Regions from separate parts of the Homo sapiens genome. Here all the other regions are linked to region 2. Evidence: fine-mapped expression QTL. A gene starts in region 2. Each other region holds a variant in brackets. All regions are shown on one strand. Distances are from middle to middle. Region 1 overlaps TRAF4 (TNF receptor associated factor 4). Region 2 holds the start of PROCA1 (protein interacting with cyclin A1). Region 3 overlaps BLTP2 (bridge-like lipid transfer protein family member 2).

Region 1 (8,142 bases), 41 kb after region 2:
CCCAGACCCGGAGCTGGAAGTACAAGTATTGGGCCTGCCTATCCGCTGCATCCACAGTGAGGAGGGCTGCCGCTGGAGTGGGCCACTACGTCATCTACAGGTGAGGCTCTGATGTGAGGGCTGGCACCACCTCTCCCTTGGCAGGCACTAATTGCAGCCTTCCCACCAGGGCCACCTGAATACCTGCAGCTTCAATGTCATTCCCTGCCCTAATCGCTGCCCCATGAAGCTGAGCCGCCGTGATCTACCTGCACACTTGCAGCATGACTGCCCCAAGCGGCGCCTCAAGTGCGAGTTTTGTGGCTGTGACTTCAGTGGGGAGGCCTATGAGGTGGGTGGGGTCTGGCTGAATGTGGAGGAGGGGGTACCTGATGGCCTAGGCATCTCTTAACTCAGCACCTCTGACATTTCCAGAGCCATGAGGGTATGTGCCCCCAGGAGAGTGTCTACTGTGAGAATAAGTGTGGTGCCCGCATGATGCGGCGGCTGCTGGCCCAGCATGCCACCTCTGAGTGCCCCAAGCGCACTCAGCCCTGCACCTACTGCACTAAGGAGTTCGTCTTTGACACCATCCAGGTGAGGCCTTCCCTGAACTGTGGGTTGCAGGGTAGGTGACAGGTAGTCAGGATATTGACTCCTGCCTCTCTACTTCTGTGGCCCCAGAGCCACCAGTACCAGTGCCCAAGGCTGCCTGTTGCCTGCCCCAACCAATGTGGTGTGGGCACTGTGGCTCGGGAGGACCTGCCAGGCCATCTGAAGGACAGCTGTAACACCGCCCTGGTGCTCTGCCCATTCAAAGACTCCGGCTGCAAGCACAGGGTGAGATGCCCCTTTTCCTGTCAGCCCCCTTTTGCCCTTGAAGCCCTAGACAGAGGCTCAGCTTCTGATGTACTTAGGCCTTGGTGGTCCCTGCTGTGCTGCTCTGAAACCCTCAGTCCTTCCCTCTGCTGCCAGCTCCAGCCTCTTCCTAACACCCTCTGTCTTCCTCACGTAGAGCTGGGTGCCTGCTACCCTGTACCCACTCCTCTCCTCTCCCTGGACCTCCCCCTACTGATAACTCTCCTCCCTTCCCCCATGGCCTGGGGCTTTGCCAACAGTGCCCTAAGCTGGCAATGGCACGGCATGTGGAGGAGAGTGTGAAGCCACATCTGGCCATGATGTGTGCCCTGGTGAGCCGGCAACGGCAGGAGCTGCAGGAGCTTCGGCGAGAGCTGGAGGAGCTATCAGTGGGCAGTGATGGCGTGCTCATCTGGAAGATTGGCAGCTATGGACGGCGGCTACAGGAGGCCAAGGCCAAGCCCAACCTTGAGTGCTTCAGCCCAGCCTTCTACACACATAAGTATGGTTACAAGCTGCAGGTGTCTGCATTCCTCAATGGCAATGGCAGTGGTGAGGGCACACACCTCTCACTGTACATTCGTGTGCTGCCTGGTGCCTTTGACAATCTCCTTGAGTGGCCCTTTGCCCGCCGTGTCACCTTCTCCCTGCTGGATCAGAGCGACCCTGGGCTGGCTAAACCACAGCACGTCACTGAGACCTTCCACCCCGACCCAAACTGGAAGAATTTCCAGAAGCCAGGCACGTGGCGGGGCTCCCTGGATGAGAGTTCTCTGGGCTTTGGTTATCCCAAGTTCATCTCCCACCAGGACATTCGAAAGCGAAACTATGTGCGGGATGATGCAGTCTTCATCCGTGCTGCTGTTGAACTGCCCCGGAAGATCCTCAGCTGAGTGCAGGTGGGGTTCGAGGGGAAAGGACGATGGGGCATGACCTCAGTCAGGCACTGGCTGAACTTGGAGAGGGGGCCGGACCCCCGTCAGCTGCTTCTGCTGCCTAGGTTCTGTTACCCCATCCTCCCTCCCCCAGCCACCACCCTCAGGTGCCTCCAATTGGTGCTTCAGCCCTGGCCCCTGTGGGGAACAGGTCTTGGGGTCATGAAGGGCTGGAAACAAGTGACCCCAGGGCCTGTCTCCCTTCTTGGGTAGGGCAGACATGCCTTGGTGCCGGTCACACTCTACACGGACTGAGGTGCCTGCTCAGGTGCTATGTCCCAAGAGCCATAAGGGGGTGGGAATTGGGGAGGGAGAAAGGGTAGTTCAAAGAGTCTGTCTTGAGATCTGATTTTTTCCCCCTTTACCTAGCTGTGCCCCCTCTGGTTATTTATTTCCTTAGTGCCAGGAGGGCACAGCAGGGGAGCCCTGATTTTTAATAAATCCGGAATTGTATTTATTAATTTGCTTCCAGCCTGACTTACCTGGGTTGGTTAGGTCCCTGGGAGGCTCAACCAAACTGAAGGCAAAGAAAGGACCAGTCAGAGAAGGGCCGCTGCCTGGGTCTGGCCCCAGGATCCAGCTTACCTGCTGGCTCGCCCTCTGATGGACGCCGGGAAAACTGCATCGGGCTTTGTGTGGAAGACGGTCCCTGCCACTGCCCTCTGCCGATGAAATGCGGGAAGTGTATGGCCTAGATGTTTCATAAGGCTGGAGTCCCTGGTCAGCCCCACCAGATTAGTGCTTCTACCCTAGGCAGGGCTTTCTTGGTCTAATGGTAATAAGCACCGACACTGCTAAGCACTTTACGTGCATTATTATTTCATTGAAAAGAACTGTCAAGTGAAATACTTTTTAGCACAGTAACTGGCTTTGTGGGCTCTAGAGAAGAGTTAATGAGGCAGTGCATGTTCTTGGCCCAGAGTAAGTGCTTAGTGAATGCTTTCTAACTCCGAACCCCAGCCACATCCAGGGACTGGGTGTTGAGCAAAAGGGGCCTTCAAGATGTTCAAGGCACTTGGATTTTCTCCTGTCTCTCATCGGCTTTTCTTAACGGGCCTCAGTGGGTGCATGTGATTATCCACGTTTCACCTATGAAACATGAACAGAGGAGACTGACTTATCAGTGATTCTTCCGCGGGTTCGGACAGGGCCTCGATTCTGTTTTAAACTCCAGTAGTCCCTAGAAATTGTAGCTCCCTCTAGTTGTGGCAATAGGTGTGGGTCCTTGTGCTTGCTTTTGGCAAGTTTCTGAGCTACACAGGGCCTCCATTACCGTCACTGGTGAAATGCGGCTCACCTCCCAGATTTGTTGTAAAGATTAAATGAACTGGTCAGCACACAGTGCCTTACTGTCTTGCCTAGCCCTGAGAAGAGGCTGTATGTACGAGAATCATTAGTAAGGGAAGGTTCAAGGACTGTAGTTCTTTCTTTTCCCATGCAGAGGCTGAGGGTTTAAACAAAAAAAAAAAAAACTCAGCCTCTGCTGCACACGACTAGCTACTCAGGAGGCTGAGGTGGGAGGATGGCTTGAGCCCAGGAGGCAGAGGTTAAAGTGAGCAGAGATTGCGCTACTGCACTCCAGCCTGTGTGGCAGAGCCAGACCCTGTCTCAAAAAAAAAGGCCTTGGGCTGGGCGAAGTGGCTCACTCACACCTGTAATCCCAGCATTTTGGGAGGTTGAGGTGGACGGATCACGAGGTCAGGAGATCAAGACCATCCTGGCTAACATGGTGAAACCCCGTCTCTACTAAAAATACAAAAAAAAATTAGCTGGTGTGGTGACACGCACCTGTAGTCCCAACTACTCAGAAGGCTGAGGCAGGAGAATCACTTGAACCCGGGAGGCGGAGGTTGCAGTGAGCCAAGATCGCGTCATTGCACTCCGGCCTGGCGACAGGGAGAATAAAAAAAAAAAAAACCCTTTATGGGGTGACAGGACAGGACTAAGCCTCAGTGAGCCAGGCTGGGGAGGTCATCATCGGCCCAATCTTTCTTTTCAAAAAGGTCAAATTGACTTACTTATCTAGGGAGAAATGGGGCCCTCCTGCCTAGGTGAGAAACTAGAGCTGGGCTTCTTCACCAGATAAACCGTCTTGGTACGGTGATGCCTGGAGACTGGTAGAGGCAACCATGGGCTCCAGCAGCATAAATGCTTTCAGGCAACAGGCTGAAACACCTTTCCAGAATCCCAGCTACACACCTGACCGAGCACAGTGGCTGATGCCTATAATCCCAGCACTTTGGGAGCCTGAGTTGGAGATGACCCTGGGCAACAAAGGGAGCCACCCCGTATCTACAAAAAAATATAAGGAGCCGGGCACAGTGGCTCACACCTGTAATCGCAACACTTTGGGAGGCTAAGGAGGGCGGATTACCTGAGGTCAGGAGTTCAACACCAGCCTGGCCAACATGGTGAAACAAAAGTCTCTACTAAAAATACAAAAATTAGCTGGGCGTGGTGGCAGGTGCCTATAATCACACCTACTTGGGAGGCTGAGACAGGAGTATTGCTTGAACCTGGGAGGTAGAGTCTGCAGTGAGCTGAGATCGCACCACTGCACTCCAGCCTGGGCAACAATGAGCAAAACTCCATCTCAAAAAAAAAAAAAAAAAATTAGTTGGGCATGGTGGTGCACACCTGTAGTCCCAGCTACTTGGGAGGCCCAGGCAGAAGAATCACTTGAACCTGGGAGGTGGAGGTTGCAGTGAGCTGAACTCCAGCCTGGGAAACATAGTGAGACTCCGTCTCTAAATAAATAAATACACTGTCACTGCATG[C/A]TTCCGGGGGTCACATTCACATAGTCTAGATGGTGCCTCCTAGAGTTGCATGCAAACAATGGGGCTGTTAACCCCATACTCTGCAAGCCTTGCACACCTGGACCTTATTCAGTGCTAGTCATAACTTGCAGAATTCAGGCCATGTTCTGCAATAAAAGTGTGAGCTGCACTCCCCAAGGATCTACCTCAGCCCAGGAATCATTCACTCTGGAGGAAGCGCTGTACTTTACTAATGTCTAGCTCCGCTTTTGGGCCGACTGCAGATCTTATCTGACACAGGCAGAAGACAGCTTCCTTTCACAGGGGTGGCATGAGGCATAAAGGAGTCAAAACACTTTCACAAAAGAACACCCTCGGCCAGGCACAGTGGCTCACGCCTGTAATCCCAGCACTTTGGGAGGTTGAGGCGAGCGGATCACAAGATCAGGAGTTCAAGACCAGCCTGACCAACATGGCGAAACCCCGTCTCTACTAAAAATACAAAAATTACCTGGGCATGGTGGCGCACACCTGTAGTCCCAGCTTCTCATGGGGCTGAGGCAGGAGAATCACTTGAACCCGGGAGGTGGAGGTTGCAGTGAGCTAAGATCGTGCCACTGCCCGCCTGAACGACAGAGCAAGAGACTATCTCAAGGAAAAAAAAGCACCCCCATCCTGGCTAACATGGTGAAACCCCATCTCTACTAAAAATACAAAAATTAGCCAGGCATGGCGGCGGGCGCCTGTAGTCCCAGCTACTCAGGAGGCTGAGGCAGGAGAATGGTGTGAACCCAGGAGGTGGAGCCTGCAGTGAGCCTAGATTGCGCCACTGCACTCCAGCCTGGGCGACAGAGTGAGACTCCGTCTGAAAAAAAATAAAAAAACAAAAGCACCCTACAGAAAAGGGTGTGCTCAAGAAAGAAGGCTGGTGCTTTAGCTCCGTCAGCATTCAGGAAGCCACCTGCGGACTCTTGCCGCCAAGGGTCTGATTCTACCCTCCCTGAATCCCCCATCTTGTGGAATCTATATGTGTATATATATAATCTATATATATATTATATAATTATATATATAGATATTATATGTATACATATAGATATTATAATTATATATATATATACACACATATATATATAATCTTTTTTTTGAGACAGAGTCTCACTCTTTTTGCCCAGGCTGGAGTGCAGTGGCACGATTTCAGCTCACCGCAACCTCTGCCTCCCGGGTTCACAAGCGATTCTCCTGCCTCAGCCTCCCGAGTAGCTGGGATTACAGGCCCCTGCCACCATGCCTGGCTAATTTTTGTATCTTTAGTAGAGACGGGATTTCACCATGTTGGCCAGGCTGGTCTCAAACTCCTGACCTTAGGTGATCTGGCTGGCCTTCACTTCCCAAAGTGCTGGGATTACAGAGGTGAGCCACTGTGCCAAGCCTCAATTTTCTTTTCTCTTTTTTTTTTTTACGGAGTTTTTTCTCGTCATCCAGGCTGGAGTGCAGTGGCGCGATCTTGGCTCACTGCAACCTCTGCCTCCCAGGTTCAAGTGATTCTCGTGCCTCAGCCTCCTGAGTAGCTGGGACTACAGGCGCCCGCTGCCATGCCTGGCTAATTTTTGTATTTTTAGTAGAGACGGGTTTTCACCATGTTGGCCAGGCTGGTCTCGAACTCCTGACCTTAGGTGATCCAGCTGGCCTCAGCCTCCCAAAGTGCTGGGATTACAGGTGTGAGCCACCACACCCGGCCTCAGTTTTCTTTTTTTAAAAAAATAGTTTTTTCATTTAGAGATGGGGGTCTCACTCCTGTCACCCAGATACTGGCACTGCAGCCGTAAACTCTCGGGCTTGAGGAATCCTACCACTTCAGCCTCCCAAGCAGCTGGGACTACAGGTATGTGCCATCACACCCAACTTTTGTTTTTTTTTTTTTTTTTTTTTGAGACTGAGTTTCACTCGTTGCCCAGGCTGGAGTGCAATGGCGCGATCTCGGCTCACCACAACCTCCGCCTCCGAGGTTCAAGCAACTCTCCTGCCTCAGCCTCCCGAGTAGCTGGGATTACAGGCATGCGCCACCATGCCCAGCTAATTTTGTATTTTTAATAGAGACAAGGTTTCTCCATGTTGGTCAGGCCGGTCTTGAACTCCCGACCTCAGGTGATCCGCCTGCCTCGGCCTCCCAAAGTGCTGGGATTACAGGCGTGAGCCACTGTACCCGGACTACACACCCAACTTTTTACAATTTTTGAAGACACAGGGTCTCACCCCTGGGCACAAGCAATCCACTTCAGCCACCCAGAGCTAGGATTACAGGCATGAGCCACCGCACCCAGCCAGAATCAACTTTTCCTTCCATTACATCTTAGCTCAAACCCAAGCTCAACAGAAGAGGAGGGTAACTTAATTCATTTTTTTTTTTTTTTTCCTGAGACGGGAGTCTCACTGTCGCCCAGGCTGGAGTGCAGTGGCATAATCTCGGCTCACTGCAACCTCCGCCTCCCAGGTTCAAGCGATTCTCCTGTCTCACCCTCCTGAGTAGCTGGAATTACAGGCGCGTGGTACCACGCCCAGCTAATTTTTGTATTGTTAGTAGAGACTGGGTTTCCCCGTGTTTGTCAGGTTGGTCTTGAACTCCTGACCTCAGATGATCCACCTGCTTTGGCCTCCCAAAGTGCTGGGATTACAGGCATGAGCCACTGTGCCTGGCTGCAATCACTTAGTGTTTTTTTTTTTTCCTCTGCAGACAAAAAAATAAAGTTATCCAAAATTCAACATAAGAAAACTGTAATCACCAAGAGGAGCCAGTTACATTGCAGATAACAGTGCCTATCACCTTCACCTCTGTCAGAGGCCCTCAGAATTTCCAAAGTGTTGGAAGTGGAAGAAGGCAGGTTTGAAGTTTTAGGTTGGGTTATTAGCAAACCAGATCCCCATTTCTTGGCTGGGCATGGTGGTTCACGCCTGTAATCTCAGCACTTTGGGAGGCCGAGGCAGGTGTATCACTTGAGGTCGGGAGTTCGAGACCAGCCTGGCCAACATGGTGAAACCCCATCTCTACTAATAATACAAAAAATTAGCTGAGCGTGGTGGCAGGCACCTGTAATCCCAGCTACTCAGGAGGCTGAGACAGGAGAATCCTTTGAACCTGGGAAGTGGAGGTTGCAGTGAGCCGAGATCGTGCCACTGGACTCCAGCCTGGGCGACAGAGCAAGACTTCGCCTCAAACAAAACAAAACAACCAGATCGCCATTTCTCAATGACTTATGGCCCTTGGAATGCAAGTGGCAGGACCTTTTGGGCCTCCAGTGAGGGACAGCAAACCACACTTATCCTCAAACTTCACAGTAAGCCCACAGCAGCCCTGCCCAGGGAGAGGGCCTGTCAGCCGGGTACCCTGTGTCCAGGGTTTCATTGAAGAACTGTCTACAATCACCATAGCACCTGGCCTTAAATAATGGATTTGGAGACGGCTTCTGGGTGGGATGCATATTACAGGGGTACCCCTTTTAAAAATTAGGAATTACTCCTATGAAGTGAGGTATGTTAGAAACTGTTAAGAAAAAGTTACCTCAAACATTCACAGCACTAAACGAATAGAACAAGGTCAGAAAGCGAGGTTTTCT
Region 2 (8,177 bases):
TAGGAGCCAGCCAGGGTCTAGGCAAGGAGGGACAGCTCCAGAAACTGTCCCAGGGTGTGTGGAGCCTGGACAGAGGATGACCCTAAGCAGACCTCCAACTGGGGTGGCAGCTCCCTCAGCCATTAGCAGCCACAAGACAGTCTGCCCCTTTGCCTTTCCTTCCCACAACTAGCTTTATCCCTTGAGGCACTGGACTTGAGGTCTGCTTAAGGAAGGGAAACTGATTGCTTGGGGTCTTCAGCAAGCCTTCAGTGGCACTTGGTCATCCTCCTATAAGTCTCTGGTCAGCTCCTCCTCCTGTTTTCCACAGCACGGCAAGTACTCAAAATTTGTTAAATGAACAAAAGAATGAATGAATGACTTTAAGCACTTCCTGGAAACTCCTGCAACCACTGTTTCTCTCAGCAGATAATTTCACCGCCATTATCTGTGGACACTCCAACCCTCATCAACTTTGCTTGCCTGGGAAAAGGGTGTCCCTCCTTTCTCATGCCCAAAGCATCTATATTTTAGGTCCCAGCCAGAAGTGACACCTTCTCCTTCTTTACTGGCTTCTTTTTTCCCCCCTTACAGGCTATAGACATCATAAAACAAAACACTCTGTCAATCCTGTTTCTCCTACCACTGCATATCCCCCTTTCAATCCAAATTGATTAACTCATTCAGAGGACATATGTTGGGTGGCTTCCCTCGGCACTAGAAAAGAGGCCCAGTCCCTACCTTCAGTGAGCTCAGTGTCTTCACTTCTTTCTTCTCTTCCAGCCACCTGCAACATGGCAGCCATCCACCCCCCAATCTGAATAGCTTTGGCAAAGGCCACCAGCAGTTTCCCAGTAGCCAAATCCAGTGGGCTTCTTATCTCATTTGACCCTGTTTTTTGTTTTGTTTTGTTTTTTGTTTGTTTTGTTTTGAGATTGAGTCTCGCTCTGTCGCCCAGGCTGGAGTGCAGTGGTGGGATCTCGGCTTACTGCACCCTCCGCCTCCCGGGTTCAAGCAATTCTCCTGCCTCAGCCTCCTGAGTAGCTGGGATTACAGGTGCACGCCACCACACCTGGCTAATTTTTGTATTTTTAGTAGAGACGGGGTTTCACCATGTTGGACAGGCTGGTCTCGAACTCCTGACCTTGTGATCCGCCCTCGGCCTCCCAAAGTGTTGGGATTACAGGCGTGAGCCACTGCGCCCGGCCTCACTTGACCCTATTGACCAATGAATCTCCTTCTTCTGCAAACTGTTCCTTGGGCTTCCATGGCAGACCTCATCTTTCTCTTCCTTCTCTAACCAGCTCTTTAGTTCTTCCCTGTCTCCTTTGCTGTCTCCTCTTGTTTTGTTGTATGCCTTAAATTGGTGATTACAAGAGTTCTGACTTGGTCACCTCCTCAGAAGGCTCTACAAAAGCATGTCCTGGATAACTTCATCAACTTCCATGTTTTCAACATCCACCAATGAAATGACATAAATCTGTAATCCCATCATTTTGGGAGTCTGGGCCGGGCACGGTGGCTCACGCCTGTAATCCCAGCTCTCAGAGAGGCAAGAGGCGGGAGGATAGCTTGAGCCCAGGAGTTCGAGACCTGCCTGGGCAATATAGCGAGACCCCGTTCTCCAGAAAAAGGAAAAAAAAAAAAAAACGACATTTTGGGAGTCTGAGGCGGGAAGATCACAAGTCCAGGAGTTCGAGACCAGCCTGGGCAACATGGCAAAACCCCATCTCTACAAAAAATACAAAAATTAGCTGGCTTAGTGGTGCACACCTGTAGTCCCAGCTACTCAGGAGGCTGAGGTGGGAGGATTACCTGAGCCCAGGGAGATCGAGGCCGCAGTGAGCCGTGATCACGCCACTGCATTCCAGCCTGGGCAACAGAGTGAGACCCTGTCTCAACTAAAATATATGCCTTTGATTCTAAATCCCCACCACAGCCCCATTCTATGGATGAGAACACAGAAACTCAGAGAGGATAAGTAATTTGTCCAAACATACATTGTTAATAGACTGTAGAAGTAGGATTCAAACCCAGGTCTTCCTGGTTCCATAGCCTATGCTCTTTCAGCCCTGTCTACTTACTGTTGGCTGGGGACACACCCCTGTAAACAAAGGTCATTCTGTATGTGAAGCTCCACAGCCAAGCCTTTTTTTTTGTTTTGTTTTGTTTTTCTTTTGAGAGAGTCTGGCTGTGTCGCCCAGGCTGGAGTGCAGTGGCGGGATCTTGGCTCACTGCAAGCTCCGCCTCCCGGGTTCACGCCATTCTCCTGCCTCAGCCTCCCGAGGAGCTGGGACTACAGACGCCCACCACCATGCCCGGCTAATTTTATGTATTTTTAGTAGAGACGGGGTTTCACCGTGTTAGCCAGGATGGTCTTGATCTCCTGACCTCGTGATCCGCCCGCCTCAGCCTCCCAAAGTGCTGGGATTACAGGCGTGAGCCACCGCACCCGGCCCATAGCCAAGCCTTAAAACCACATTCTGCTTGAGTGAGCCGGCGAGGCAGAGGTTGCAGTGAGCTGAGAGAGCCACAGCACTCCAGCCTGGGCGACAGAGTGAGATTCTGTCTTATAAAATAAATCACGTTCAGCTCCATATGCAAAACCTGTCCTACCAGGCCGGGTGCAGTGGCTCATGCCTGTAATCTCAGAATTTTGAGAGGCCGAGGTGGGCGGATCACTTGAGGTCCGGAGTTTGAGACCAGCATGGTCAACATGGTGAAATCCCTTCTCTAATAAAAATCCAAAAATCGGCCAGGCATGGTGGCACATACCTGTAGTCCCAGCTGCTCTGGAGGCCAAGGCATGAGAATCGCTTGAACCCCAGAAGTGTAGGTTGCAGTGAGCCGATATCGTGCTACTGCACTCCAGTGTGGGCAGCAGAGTGAGACGGCGGGAAGGACAGGTGTTTTTTTGAGGCACAGTCACTTCCTACTGCACCTGCTTTTCAGCTCCAACACTACCAATTCCTCACCCTCTGGTTTTACTCAATCTGGACTCCACAGCCTCCCTTATCCACCCTGGACCCTAAAGTCATGCCGCTGGGACCTCAGCCAGGGTGAGGAACCAAAACTCCTCTGCCTTGCTGTTTCAGGAGCCACCATGAAAGAGACACACATGGCCAGGCGCGGTGGCTCATGCCTGTAATCCCAGTACTTTGGGAGGCCGAGGTGGGCGGATCACGAGGTCAGGAGTTCAAGACCAGCCTGACCAACATGGTGAAACCCCGTCTCTACTAAAAATAAAAAAAAATAAAAAAAATAGCTGGGCGTGGTGGCGCGCGCCTGTAATCCCAGCTACTCAGGAGGCTGAGGCAGGAGAATTGTTTGAACCCGGGAGGTGGAGTTTGCAGTGAGCCGATATTGCGCCACTGCACTCCAGCCTGGGCGACAGAGCGAGATTCCATCTCAAAAAAAAAAAAAAAAAAAAAAAGCACACATGCAGGGTCAGAGCCTGTTTACTCTCCACTCACTAGCTCCCCCAGAGCTCGGACACCCATCAGCTCTGTTTGTGAAGGAGACGAGGGGAGGAAGGACAAAGGGGGAGACGAATTTAGTAACTCTCTTCAGAGCTGAGAAAAGCAATCTGCTCTTTAGTTCCAGAGGACAGGAGGAGACCTCTGACCAGCAGCAGTCCAGAGTTCCTGCAGCAGGAGTGACTGACAACACACACAATGAATGAGGAGGGTGATAGGGTGAAAGAAAGTGGGAGGCTTATGGCGTCTTTCCCCGTGAGGCGTTAATCGGCGCACAAAGGCCTAACTCAAAACTCACAAGTTATGCTCATCTGTACAGAATCCTCCCCGTCCTGCGGGGCCGAGGAGCTCTCCTCGACCTCGAGGCACTGGGGGTGGGCACCAGAGCAGCCGAAAGGAGTAGGGTGGGAAGGGAGGGAAGGAGTAGGGCGGGAAGGGAGGGAAGAAACTAGGAGAGGAAGGAGGGAAGAGGAGGAAGCAAGGGAGGGGCAGTGCGCCCGCGTCTCCTTGGAAATGCCTCTCTGGCCTCGCCGCCGCGGAGGTAATTGTGATGCCACGGGTGGAACCCTCAGTCTCCTTGGTCCACCCTCAGGGTCGATGGAACCGCCCGCTCCCGCCCCGGCGTCCGGGTGGGCGCTGGTCCACGGGCTCCAGCCAAGGCCGGCGCTTCAAGGGCAGCGGCCTGCGCCCGGTGCCACCCAGTCCGATAGCCGAGCGTTCCAGCTCTGGCTGGAACCAGACTTCCCGCCCATCCCGCGGGCGACCCAGCAGGGCCTCAGGACCCCAGTCCTCAATCATTGGCCCGCGGCTCGACGCGAGCCCGCCCCCGGCCCTAGCTCCGCCCCGGCCCTAGCTCCGCCCCGGCCCAGCACTGGGCCCCGCCTCTCTCGTTGGTTTGCCCGTCTCCCTCGTCGGTTTGCCGGCTTCCCGCGTGCGCCGCTCGGGGTCTGCGAGCCGGGCCGCGCCCTCTGCCCAGCCCCTGCCCCGCCCCTCTTACCGCGGCATCTGCTCTCATCCCACGAGCGGGCCTTGGGCTCGGTCTTTTCCTTAGTCCATCTTTCAATTGTGAGCGTCGTCCTGACCCACATCGCTCTCCGCCCAGGTCTTCGTCTCTACAGGACTCTTGCGTGAAGTCCAACCCTGAGCCTCAGCCCGGCCGAGCCCTCGGCCCAGCCGTGAACTCCAGTCTCGGCTTCGCCCCCGCCTAGCCCCTAACCCCGCCTCATGCTGGCGCAGCCCCCGCCGGCCTCCCCAGCCCGGCTCCAGGCTGCGTAGTCTTCCCAGCTGGGTCTCAGCGTCAGCCGCGTTCTTCATCCGGGGCCTCCGGCGCCTCCCAGGCCCCTCTTTATCTCAGACCTTAACCTTACAGGCCCAGCTCTCACCACCCATCTCTGGTTCCAGCTTGCAGTCCAAACCCCAGATTTTCACCCTGCCTCCAGATCGTAGCCCCAATTCTTAGTGTTACAACGAGCCTTGCCCCCAGCCCCATTCTTAGCCCCGCCCCGGCCATTCTCTAAACCGCACACTCCCGTCCCGCTCCCCGCCCCACCGACCCTTGGGAACCCAGCCGCAGCCCCGCCTCTGCCCGCTGGCGAGAGAGCGAACCCCATCTCTACAAAAAATACAAAAATTAGCTAGTTTAGTGGTGCGCACTTGTAGTCCCAGCTACTCGGGAGGCTGAGATGGGAGGATCCCCTGAGCCCAGGGAGGTCCTGGCGTCGCCATTTCCCCTCCACCTTCCGGGCTTCGAGGTCCCTCCGCCTCTGGTGGAGCCCGGGCTTCCCCTTTCTCCGCCCACAGGCCTCTCCGAAGACCTAACTCCGGGCTGAGGACCTGATGTCGGCTCCCAGCCCCTGCGCCACCCCGCAGCGTTCCCGCCCCTGGCCCCCAGGGGACACCCTATTCTAGAGACAATACTGCCCAATAGAGAGTCGTAAGCTTATCCTGATAGACAATCTGGAGAACAGGGCAGGCTGCATTCATAGGAACCTCATCCCAGTGACACCCCTCACGCCCTCAGGTACAACATACACACTCTGCGCATGCATATATCACACACACACAGAATATACTCACCACACACAGACTAATACAACATGCACACGGAACACAGAACTCCCACACCCGGTGCAGCACAAACACCACACCTGGACTGTGGTGCTGGCTTCACACACATCTGTTAACAGGCAAGGCAAGGGTGAGGAGCCCAGTGCTGCGAGGGAACAGAAATGGAAAAAACAATCACAGGAGAGTGTGAAAAGAAGTTATGGCCATATCGACGACATTCCATGCACCACACCCCTCCATTTCTCTTGGCACCAGCTTCCAAAGCCAGGATGAAGAGGAGGAGAAAGGATGGGGTCCACACCTTGTTTTCTCCACCATCATCCAGGGGCTCTGCTGCTGCTACTATTGCTCTGCCTGATCCCCACCTTCACTTTCCTCCAGACCCAAGTCCGGAGTGGGTAGGGCTGCTGCCCAGACCCTCCTTCCCGTGGTAGCTCTAGAGAGTCTAGGAACTGCGAGGGAGGGGAAGCCAGGAGAAGGGAAGTGTGCAGAAAAACCAACCATCCTGGTGAGAATGGAACCAGGAATGGAACAGACAGAGCACTTGGCAACTGGGAGCCAGAATCTGCCTTCTAACTTGGACACCCCCTTAGCCTCCCAGGATGACACGAGGCCATAAGTCCTCCTTTGTTGACCCAGATGTCTGAGGTGCTTCCAGCTACTCTGGAACTCTGGGTTAGATGTCAACAGGGAGCCAGGGTCTTGGTCACCTTTCTTTCTTATAAAAGTTAATGGCATAAACAACCAAAAAAACAAACAAAAAAAAAAAAGAAAGAAAAGTTAATGGTTATAACTCCTGAGTTCAAGCAATTCTCCTGCCTCATCCTCCCAAGTAGCTGGAGTTACAGGCATGCACCACCACGCCCGGCTAATTTTTGTATTTTATTTTATTTATTTTTTTTTATGAGACAGAGTCTCGCTCTGTCACCCAGGCTGGAGTGCAGTGGTGCCATCTCGGCTCACTGCAAGCTCCGCCTGCCAGGTTCAGGCCATTCTCCTGCCTCAGCCTCCCAAGTAGCTGGGACTACAGGCACCAGCCACCACGCCTGGCTAATTTTTTGCATTTTTAGTTTCACCATGTTAGCCAGGATGGTCTCTATCTCCTGACCTCGTGATCCGCCCGCCTCAGCCTCCCAAAGTGCTGGGATTACAGGCATGAGCCACCGCGCCCGGCCTAATTTTTGGATTTTAATGGTGACGCGGGTTTCACCATGTTGGCCAGGCTGGTCTCGAACTCCTGAATCCAAGTGATCTGCCTGCCTTGGCCTCCCAAAGTGCTGAGATTACAGGCACGAGCCACCGCACCCTGCCTGGAAAAGTACTTCTTAAAGGGAAGGCAAGAAAAGGGTGAAAAAAAGAAAAAGATTCTCCAGTGGTGAAAATTTGGGTATAAGCACCAAGTAGGAGGACACGTGTGGGGAAAGGATCAGGGGAAAGGGCTCTCAAAGCCAGCCATTCAGACTTCACCCAGTGAGGGCCCAGTGCAGCCCCCAAACTGATGTTTCAGCTCCCAGCCTACCTGAACCTGCCCAGGGGCCAGGGATGGCCAGCACAGCATCCCCAGGGGACTCTAGTGCCAAAATGGCCACACAGTCATGCCCATTCCACATCCATCATCCCCAACAAAGAACTCCAGCCCCAAAGTGCTCGTAACAAAGAAATTTTAATGCATAAGGCACAGTGAGAGGCTGGAATCATTAAGCATCCTCAAACACAAAGGGCCCAGCAGGCTGAGCAAAAGAACAGAGACACTCTCCCTCACTACCACTGGGCGCCCTGGACAGTCCCCTGAGGAGTAGGGGGCATCCAGTCTTTGGCACGGTGCCTGGGGGCAGGAAGTGACTAGCATGATCCCAGCTACCCCTCTGTGGGAATACTGCCACCAAGAGGCAGCTCTTTGGTCTGGATAAAGTCAGTGCAAATGTCCAGGGGTCAAGCTCTGGAGGAATGAGGGTGGCACAGTGCCCTAGGGCTGGGCAGTCTCTGAACAGTCTCCTCAGCCCTCATGGGCAACATGTGGGCTTCTTCTTGCTGGCAGTTAGGTAGAGGTTGCTGTCATCACTGTTGATGCCTAAAGAAGGGTGGAAAATATGTGAAGCAGGGATTGGAGGCTCACTGTGCCCTCTGCCACCCTCAACCAGGCAAGCACTCACGGACAACATCCCCAATGCGTCGAGCCCCCGATTTCTCCAGCTCAGCCAGCACATTGGCCTCAAAGGTCAGTGCTGCCACACGGAAGAAGAATTCTCGGACATTCTCACCTGACACAGAGAGCAGATAGGTGCTCAGGGGCAGTGCTGGGTCTGGGGACACAGGGCACAGCTGGAGGTGTAGCAGTGAGAGGAGAGCCAGGCAAGAGTGTCACAGCAGAGCCCTAAAGCCTCCAACTCACCAGTGAGAGATGAGACTGCCCAGTACTCAGCCTTCATCTCCTGGGCCACCTGGAGGGCGTCTTTCTCCATCAGCGCATACTGAGCAGGGGTCTGAGGGAAGGCCAGAGTCAGAGGGGGGCATTCCCTCACCAAGCTGGGAAGTCCCCCCACTGGCACACTCACACTCAGATCCTTCTTGGAACCTACAAGGAAGAGAAGCACACTGGAAGGGTCATTCTCCTTCAGGGCATCGGCCAGCCACTGCCTGCCATGGGAGGTGGAA
Region 3 (8,177 bases), 80 kb before region 2:
CTGGATAGCTGAACACGTAGAGGTTCCTGGGGCATAGCATGCCTGCCTGGGGAGGGCACAGAAGCTTCCCGCCACTTCCCATACCTCGCACTATGCATCTCTTCATCCATATCCTTTGTAATACCCTTTACAGTAATCCAGTAAACATGTTTCCTTCAGTCCTGTGAGCTGCTCTAGCAAATTAATTGAACCCAAGGAGGGGGTTGTGGGAACCCGTTTATAGCCAGTTGGTGAGAAGCACAGATAAAGCAACCTGGAGCCTGTGACTGGCATATGAAGGAGAAGGGCGGGCTTAGAGACTGAGTCGTCAACCTTTGGAATCTGATGCTGTCCCTGGGTAGATAGTGTCAGAATTGAACTGAATTAGAGGACACCCAACTGGTGTCCACTGCAGAATTAATTGCTTGCTTATTGGTTGGGAAAAATTCCCACACATTTGGTCACAGAAGTCTTCTGTGTCAATTGTTTTCGAGTGAGGGAATAGAAAAAACACTTTTGAGTTTGGGTTTTTCCACTCAAGACTCTGCTTTGAACGCACTAGGCTTTCAAACTCCACTCCTACTCAGATTATTCCCTCTGCATTGATTGCCCTTCTACCCCATTTCTACATGTTCAAACCATACTAGGCTTTCAAGGCCTGGCTCAAATGCTACTTCCTCAATAAACCCTCCCCTGATGGTATTCCCCCCTTCACTCCTGTCAGCAATACCTCCATTTTTTTTTTTTTTGAGACAGAGACTTGCTCTGTGGCCCAGGCTGGAGTGCAGTGGTGCGATCTAGGCTCACTGCAAGCTCTGCCTCCCAGGTTCATGCCATTCTCCTGCCTCAGCCTCCCAAGTAGCTGGGACTACAAGCACCCGCCACCATGCACGGCTAATTTTTTTGTATTTTTAGTAGAGATGGGGTTTCACCGTGTTAGCCAGGATAGTCTCGATCTCCTGACCCACCCACCTCAGCCTCCCAAAGTACTGGGATTACAGGCGTGAGCCACTGCGCCCGGCCCCATATTCTTTTTTTGAGATGGAGTCCTGCTCTATCACCTCCACCTCCTGGGTTCAAGCGAATCTCGTGCCTTAGCCTCCCGAGTAGCTGGGATTACAGGTACTTGCCACCATGCCTGGTTAATTTTTTTTGTATTATTTTTAGTAGAGATGGGGTTTTGCCATGTTGGCCAGGCTGGTCTTGAACTCCTCACTTCAAGTGACCCACCCACCTCGGCCTCCAAAAGTGCTGGAATTACAGGAGTGAGCCACTGTGCCCATCCAACTCCCATTTTCTTTTATTTCTCTCTTATGGCATTTACCACTTTGCTTCTTTCCCTTACTCATCTTGTTTTGGCTCCAACACTCCCCTTCTGATTCTCTTCTGGCCATAGGACCAGACCATTTAATGCCCCAACATCACTGTTACTTAATATGTAAGACTTAGGTGGCCTAAGAAGGAAAAATAATAGTTTCACTTCTTTACCTAGATAGAAGCACCATGACTCAGTCCTTTTAAAACTCCTGTCCAAGCCCATATCCATGTTCTAAACCCAAACCCAAAAAGTCTCATCTCCCCGAGCTTACCTCCTGATGACCCCTTATCAGGTTGTCCACTGAAGCTGGGAGTGTTAACACGAGGTGGGGCTGAGGCACTAGTTGGGACACCCCGCTTTGGCTTTTTGGCTGGCATCTGTGGATCAATCTTTAACCCCTTCAGGGCCTCAGTAGAAAGATTACGTTTGAGTACAGCTGCCTTTTTGTACCCATCATATAACCCAAAGGCAATGTCTCGATTGGTAGTTGTCCAGGAAATCCGTAAATCTACTAAGTGCAGCTGATGTGTATGAAAGGTAGGATCCCCATCACGAGCAGAGAGCTCCTAAGAAACAGGAAAAGGACTTCAGGGTAGCATGGAAATTGCCCCCAGTGCCACAGAGGCAGTGATAAAAGTTTGTTGAATAAGAAACCTGTTGGCCAGATGCCATGGCTCATGCCCGTAATCCCAGCACTTTGGGAGGCCGAAGTGGGCAAATCACGAGATCAGGAGTTTGGGACCAGCCTGGCCAACCTGGTGAAACCCCATCTCTACTAAAAATACAAAAAATTAGCTGGGCATGGTGGCTGGCACTGGTAATCCCAGCTACTCAGGAAGCTGAGGCAGGAGAATCGCTTGAACCTGGCAGGTGGAGGTTGCAGTGAGCCGAGATCACACCACTGCACTCTAGCCCAGGCGACAGAGAGAGACGCAGTCTCAAAAAAAAAAAAAAATTCACTGGGCGTGGTGGGGAGACAGACCCTGGAGAAGAAAAACTAAGTGGTCTTGGCTTTTATATTATATTACATTCAAACTATACCTACTGTATTTTATTCTTTATCAAAAAACGTTTTCAGAGTTCCTCTAAAATTTTTTTTTTAAGAAATGGAGTCTATTTTGTCCAGACTGGTCTTGAACTCCTGGCTTCAAGCAATCTTCCTGCCTTAGTCTCCCAAGTAGCTGGGACTACGGGCACAAGCCACTGTGCTGGCCCATTTTATTTTTTAAATATATTTATTTATTTTTATTTATTTATTTGAGACAGAATCTGGTTCTGTCTCCCAGGCTGAAGTGCAGTGGTGTGATTTTTTTTTGAGACAGAGTCTCACTCCATCACCCACGCTGGAGTGCAGTGGCATGATCTTGGCTAACTGCAACCTCTGCCTCCCAGGTTCAAGCGATTCTCATGCTTCAGTCTCCAAGTACCTGGGGATTACAGGTATGTGCTACCACACCTGGCTAATTTATTTATTTTTTATTTATTTATTTATTTATTTTTTGGAAACAGAGTCTCACTCTTGTCGTCCAGGCTGAAGGCAATGGTGCGATCTCAGCTGGCTGCAACCTCCACTTCCCGGGTTCAAGCGATTCTCCTGCCTCAGCCTCCCGAGTAGCTCGGATTACAGGCACCTGCCACCACGCCCAGCAAATTTTTGTATTTTTTAGTAAAGATGGGGTTTCACCATATTGGCCAGGCTGGTCTCAAACTCCTGACCTCAAATGATCCGCCCACCTTGGCATCCCAAAGTGCTGGGATTACAGTCGTGAGCCACTATACCTGGCCTAATTTTTGTATTTTTAGTAGAGACAGGGTTTCACCATGTTGGCCAGTCTGGTCTCAAACTCCTGACCTCGACTGATCCATCTGCCTCAGCCTCCCAAAGTGTAGGGATTACAGGTGTGAGCCACTGCACCCAGCCTTAATGGTGCAATCCTGGCTCACTACAACCTCTGCCTCTTGGGCTCAAGCCATCCTCCTA[C/T]CTCAGCCTCCTAAATAGCTAGGACTACAGGTGCATGCCACCATGCCTGGCTAATTTTTTTGTATTTTTTGTAGAAACACGGTTTCACCATGTTGCCCAGGCTGGTCTGGAACTCTTGAGCTCAAGGGATCCACCCACCCTGGCCTCCCAGAGTGCTGGGATTACAGGCATGAGCCATCACACTTTGCCTATTTATTTCTGAGATGGGGTCTCACTCTGTCACCCAGGCTGGAGAGCAGTGATGCGGTCATGGCTCACTGCAGCCTCGATTTCCCAGACTCCAGCCATCTTCCCACCTCAGCCTCCCGAGTAGCTGGGACCACAGGCACATGCCACCACACCCAGATAATTTTTTGTATTTTTGGTAGAGACAGGGTTTCCTCATGTTGCCCAGACTGGTCTCAAACTCCTGAGCTCAAGCAATCCACCTGCTTCAGCCTCCCAAAGTGTTGGGATTACAGGCATGAGCCACCTGAGCCCAGCCCCCACTGTTTTTTTTTTTTTTTTTTTTTTTTTGTATTTTGGAGACAGCATCTTGCTCTGTCACCCAGCTTGGAGCGCACTGGTGTGACCTCGGCTCTCTGCAACCTCCACCTCCCGGGTTCAAGAGATTCTCCTGCCTCAACCTCCCAAGTAGCTGGAACTACGGTCATGTACCACCATTCCCAGCTAATTCTTTTGTATTTTTAGTAGAGATGGGGGTTTCACCATGTTGGTCAGGCTAGTCTTGAACTCCTGACTTCAAATGATCCATCCGCCTTGGCCTCCCAAAGTGCTGGGATTACAGGCATGAGCCACCGCACCCAGCCCTCCCCCACTGTATTTTAAATGACTTGAGAATTTCAACTTAAAATCCTTCCCTAATTGGGGGAAAGGCAGTACCAATTTTTTTTTCAGTGTTAGGAAAAAATTTTACTCTATTTCCTAAAGAGTAACATACTATTTTTAGGAGAGAAAGAAAAAGTATTTTCAAAAAGAAGGATGCTGATACAGCTAAACCAAATGAGTTTGTCATAAAGTAATGACATACATGCTTGGAATATATGAGAAACCTTACCAGGGACTTAATCTGCAACCTACTCCTATGGACTTTACTGTGTTCCCCCCAAATTCATATGTTGAAGTCCTAACCCCCAATGTAACAGTATGTGGAGATGGGCCTTTGGGAGGTAATGACATAAGGTCACGAGGGTGGGGCACTCATGACAGAATTAGTGCTTTTACAATAAGAGAAACCAGAGCACTCGTGCACACTTGTGCTCTCTCTCCCTCTCTGCCATGTGAGGACAGACACAAGGCAGCCATCTGCAAGCCAGGAAGACAGCCCTCACCAGAACCCAACCATGCGGGCACCGTGATCTTGGACTTCCCAGTAGCCAAAACTCATAAATAAATTTTTGTTGTATAAACCTCCCAGTCTCTGGTATTTTGTTATGGCAGCCCAAGTAGGCTGAGATACCTACTAATATAAATAAGGTAATAAAGAAAGTGTGTCAGGGAGTACCTCCTCAGCTGTGCGATTGCTATGCCGTTGGTAGGTGAGGGAGGACAAGCTCAGCAGGTGGGTCTTTGTTACCAAGGGATCAAGACAGTGATCAGCATTCTCTTCAGTGGGTGAGGCCATCAGGTGAACGGTCACCTGACTTAGGTCACTCACCATCTGGGTAACACTCCAATCAGAGATAAGGCGCCGCATCACTGTGCCTGCTGAGAAAAAGAGGCACACAGAGACCATGCTGACCAGTTCAGAGGATAGTGTAAGACAGAGATGGAGGAGGGGAATGGAACTGAGAAGGGAAAAACAAGGAACAGGATAGGAGAAATGAAAGGAGTCTTTCATTTTACCTTGAGGTATAAGCCGCTGAGTCCCCCGAGTGAAGACATGGCCCTGACTGCACTCAATCTGGATGCCCCGTTGCTGGGCAAATGAGGCCCAATAATGTACCTGGCAACAAGAGAGCATAACATTAACAAAGGATGGCATGAGAGGGATGATTAAGGGACTCAATATGAGAAACAAGAAAACTAGAAGCAGAATAAAGTGAAGATGTCAGCAGGGACATCAGTGCCTTACCTGCAGCTGGGGAAAGAGGGCTGTATAGGAAAGTTGCTTGTAGTGCTGACCAAGTTTCTTCTTGCTGGGTTTCAGGTTATTGAAGAGCTTTCCCCTGCAGATAGGCCTTGTGACACTTGTCCAAGTTGCCCAGAAGTTTTGCATCCAGCGCAGGGTACTACTATATAGCAGAATTCGGGGCTGGGATATTGCTGCAAAGAGAAAGACAGACATTTCCTAGTTATGGATGAAACACAGAGGTAAAGCTAAATCCTTCCCTTGCTGCAGGTTGTAGAGGTTTAAAAATCCAAAATCCAAACAGCACCTAGCCTCACATTCAGCATCCCCAACTCCCTCTTCTTTCAAGGATCTAAGCTCTCTGCTTTCCCCTACTGCTATGGTCTAAATGTTTGCATCTCCCCAAAATTCATGCTGAAATACCCCTAAGGTAATGATGTTAAGAGGTGGGCCTCTGGGAGGTCACTAGATCATGACGGTGGAGCCTTCATGAATAGGATTAGTGCCCTTTTAAAAGTGGTCCAAGGGAGCTCACTGACTCCTTCCACCATATTAGGACACAGCAAAAAGGCACCATCTATGAGGAATGGGCCCTCACTGACACTGAATCTATCAGCTCTTTTTGATCTTCGACTTTCAAGCCTCCAGAACTGTGAGAGATAAACGCTTGTTGTTTATAAGCTACCAAACTTGTGGTATTACTGTTATAGCAGCCAAAAAGGACTAAGACACCAACCCTTTCCCCTGCCAAAAAACAAAAAAAAAGGTCCTAACCTAGATTCTCCCTTGCCCTTCTCCCCTCCCCTCCCCTCCCCAGAGGGTCAAGCTAAAGTCCCCAGCATCCATGCCCGTCCTCCCAAGCCCTTCCTCCCCACTGCCCCAGGCCCAAGCCTCACTTCCACTGTGCCGAGTCAGATCCATCTTGATGGAGAGATTGAGGTTCTCCGAGCGAAAGGCCCGGTAGGAGTCATGAAGCTGGCCCAAGGGCACCTCAGGCAGGAACTCTGGGGCCCGCAGAGTGACACTATGGTGATCATGGGGGTTCCCATGGCACAGCCACTGCAGGTCCAGTGTCATGCAGAGGTCAGGCAGGTGAAGGAAGCAGCAGTCGTCATACCTGCCTCACAATGGAACCCCAGCCCTCAGTGCCCTGGTCACTCACTTCCCCTTGGCTCTTCCCCCTCCCTCCAACCTGAGCCCCTCATCCCATGGAGGACCCTCCCTTCACTCCACTCACTTAGAGGCTGTTCTCACGTTGATATCCAAGTCACCCTTGAACACAAACTGACCAGGTTTCCAATGAAAAGACAGGTGGCTCCACTCCCAGTGCATATTTTCAGTTGTGTTGTATGGATCCTATGACCACCCCCGAGAATTTGGTGAGATATAGGTAAGAAAACCATCCTCATCTCCCAAATCAGCACCTGTCTCTCTTCCCACATGTGCTATACAGACCTCAACCATACCATCCTGATAGGATAAAAGTATCATGACACCCCTCACCTCAGTGGCCAGCTGGTGCAGGTTCGCCTGTTCAATGTCCATGTGCCAGTCTCCATGGAACAGAAGACGGCTCTTGTCCCACCAGGGCAAAGGTGGGCTGGGGTCAGCTGAGGGCTTGGTCAAGAGGTCCACACACTGGCCAATTAGTGTCCAGGCTGGATCCCAGCATGGGCCCCACACCACTGTGTACTGGAATATTTCCGCTGGGGTAGAGGAACAAAGGCTATAACTTGTTCACAACATTACCCCTCTCTTCCTCCTTCACTCCAGAAGGGTCTCAGCTCACCTCCCATTTCACCCATCACAAACGTCCCTCAGCCAAACCAACTGCCTCATCTCTACTCACAGTGAAAGTCATGGTAGAATTTGAGTGGGGGCATGTTCCTCTCCACTGCCACGTTACCCCACGGAAGCCCCAAGTGCAAGATCTGACGCCGACGGGAGCAAGGCTGACCACTCTGCTCGGTGCCCACAAGTCGACCCATTAGCCGCCAGTCACGGATCTCAAACAGGTACCGTGGATAGTCCCTGATCCGAACTGTTACCAGAGGAAGGGTACACACTGGCTACTCAGGGGCAGTCTGAGCACTCTCGGGCCTATCTTTTTCCTCACCACTATTTTACCCATCTATATTTACAAAGTCAATTGAGAGAACAAGGGCAGGCAGTTGACACAGCAAGCTGAAAAATGACAGTGACCCTGGAGCAGGTGGTTAAGGGCATAGCACTGAGATCCAAGAGACACAATAACCTTAAAGATGACTGTGTTAGCTTTCCCTTTATGTTAGCCAAGCAATTTCACGGTGAAATTCAGGAACAAAGAAAGGGAAGGGAAGCCCACCCATCCCACTCCACCCACCCAAAACGGCACAGTTCCCAATATAACCTAGTTCCTCTGAAATCACTGAGAGCTCCCCAGAGCTCAGCGGGCAAACACGGGGTCTGCAAATAAAGGAAACACTACTTACCCAGAAAGCTCTTGACATTGCACTTGAGCATTCGACACCACTGAATGACAAGATCTAATCCCTCAGGGGGAAAAGGGCTGCCTGGATCAAGCTCTTGAACCTGTTCTACCACATGCTCAGGACCATGGAAGGAGGCATCTGCCAGAGCTACCAGTTCTAGCCCTGCTAAGCTCCAAGTAAGCAGTGCCCGGCGCATGGGTGTGTTGCCATAGAGACGACGGGAACGCTGGATGTAGATTTCAATGTTTTTGCGTTCCAAAGAGGCATAGAGCTCCTCAATTTTGCGGGCAGGCAACAACTCCCCATGCTGCTTCCGAAGGGCGGCCACTTTAGCATCCAGTAGCTGTAGTCTTTTGG

Evidence for each region.
Region 1: its variant is fine-mapped to the expression of PROCA1 in lung (GTEx, PIP 0.91).
Region 3: its variant is fine-mapped to the expression of PROCA1 in visceral fat (GTEx, PIP 0.97). The same link has a PIP of 0.9 or more in transverse colon.

What each region holds. Positions count from the first base shown.
Region 1 is chr17:28,747,848-28,755,989 of GRCh38, forward strand. TRAF4 (TNF receptor associated factor 4) reads left to right here. Exons shown (of 7, transcript NM_004295.4): 3 at 1-100; 4 at 170-331; 5 at 415-576; 6 at 664-819; 7 at 1,098-3,109. The coding sequence ends at 1,730. FAM222B (family with sequence similarity 222 member B) reads right to left here. Exons shown (of 3, transcript NM_001077498.3): 3 at 8,133-8,142. Among named protein-coding and RNA genes, the nearest start is that of TRAF4, 7.9 kb to the left of the region's middle. RefSeq lists an enhancer at 1-243. The variant C/A (reference allele first, on the strand shown) is at 4,550.
Region 2 is chr17:28,707,118-28,715,294 of GRCh38, forward strand. It overlaps PROCA1 (protein interacting with cyclin A1), which reads right to left and starts at 4,771. Exons shown (of 5, transcript NM_001366301.1): 1 at 4,453-4,771. The coding sequence starts at 4,543. RAB34 (RAB34, member RAS oncogene family) reads right to left here. Exons shown (of 10, transcript NM_031934.6): 7 at 8,078-8,159; 8 at 7,915-8,005; 9 at 7,676-7,783; 10 at 7,167-7,593. The coding sequence ends at 7,526. RefSeq lists enhancers at 3,436-4,211, 4,212-4,987, 5,546-5,625 and a silencer at 4,006-4,505.
Region 3 is chr17:28,626,697-28,634,873 of GRCh38, forward strand. It overlaps BLTP2 (bridge-like lipid transfer protein family member 2), which reads right to left. Exons shown (of 39, transcript NM_014680.5): 16 at 7,821-8,177; 17 at 7,199-7,390; 18 at 6,853-7,055; 19 at 6,587-6,705; 20 at 6,246-6,466; 21 at 5,353-5,543; 22 at 5,124-5,223; 23 at 4,783-4,985; 24 at 1,569-1,863. Among named protein-coding and RNA genes, the nearest start is that of BLTP2, 14 kb to the right of the region's middle. RefSeq lists a silencer at 1,198-1,372. The variant C/T (reference allele first, on the strand shown) is at 3,279.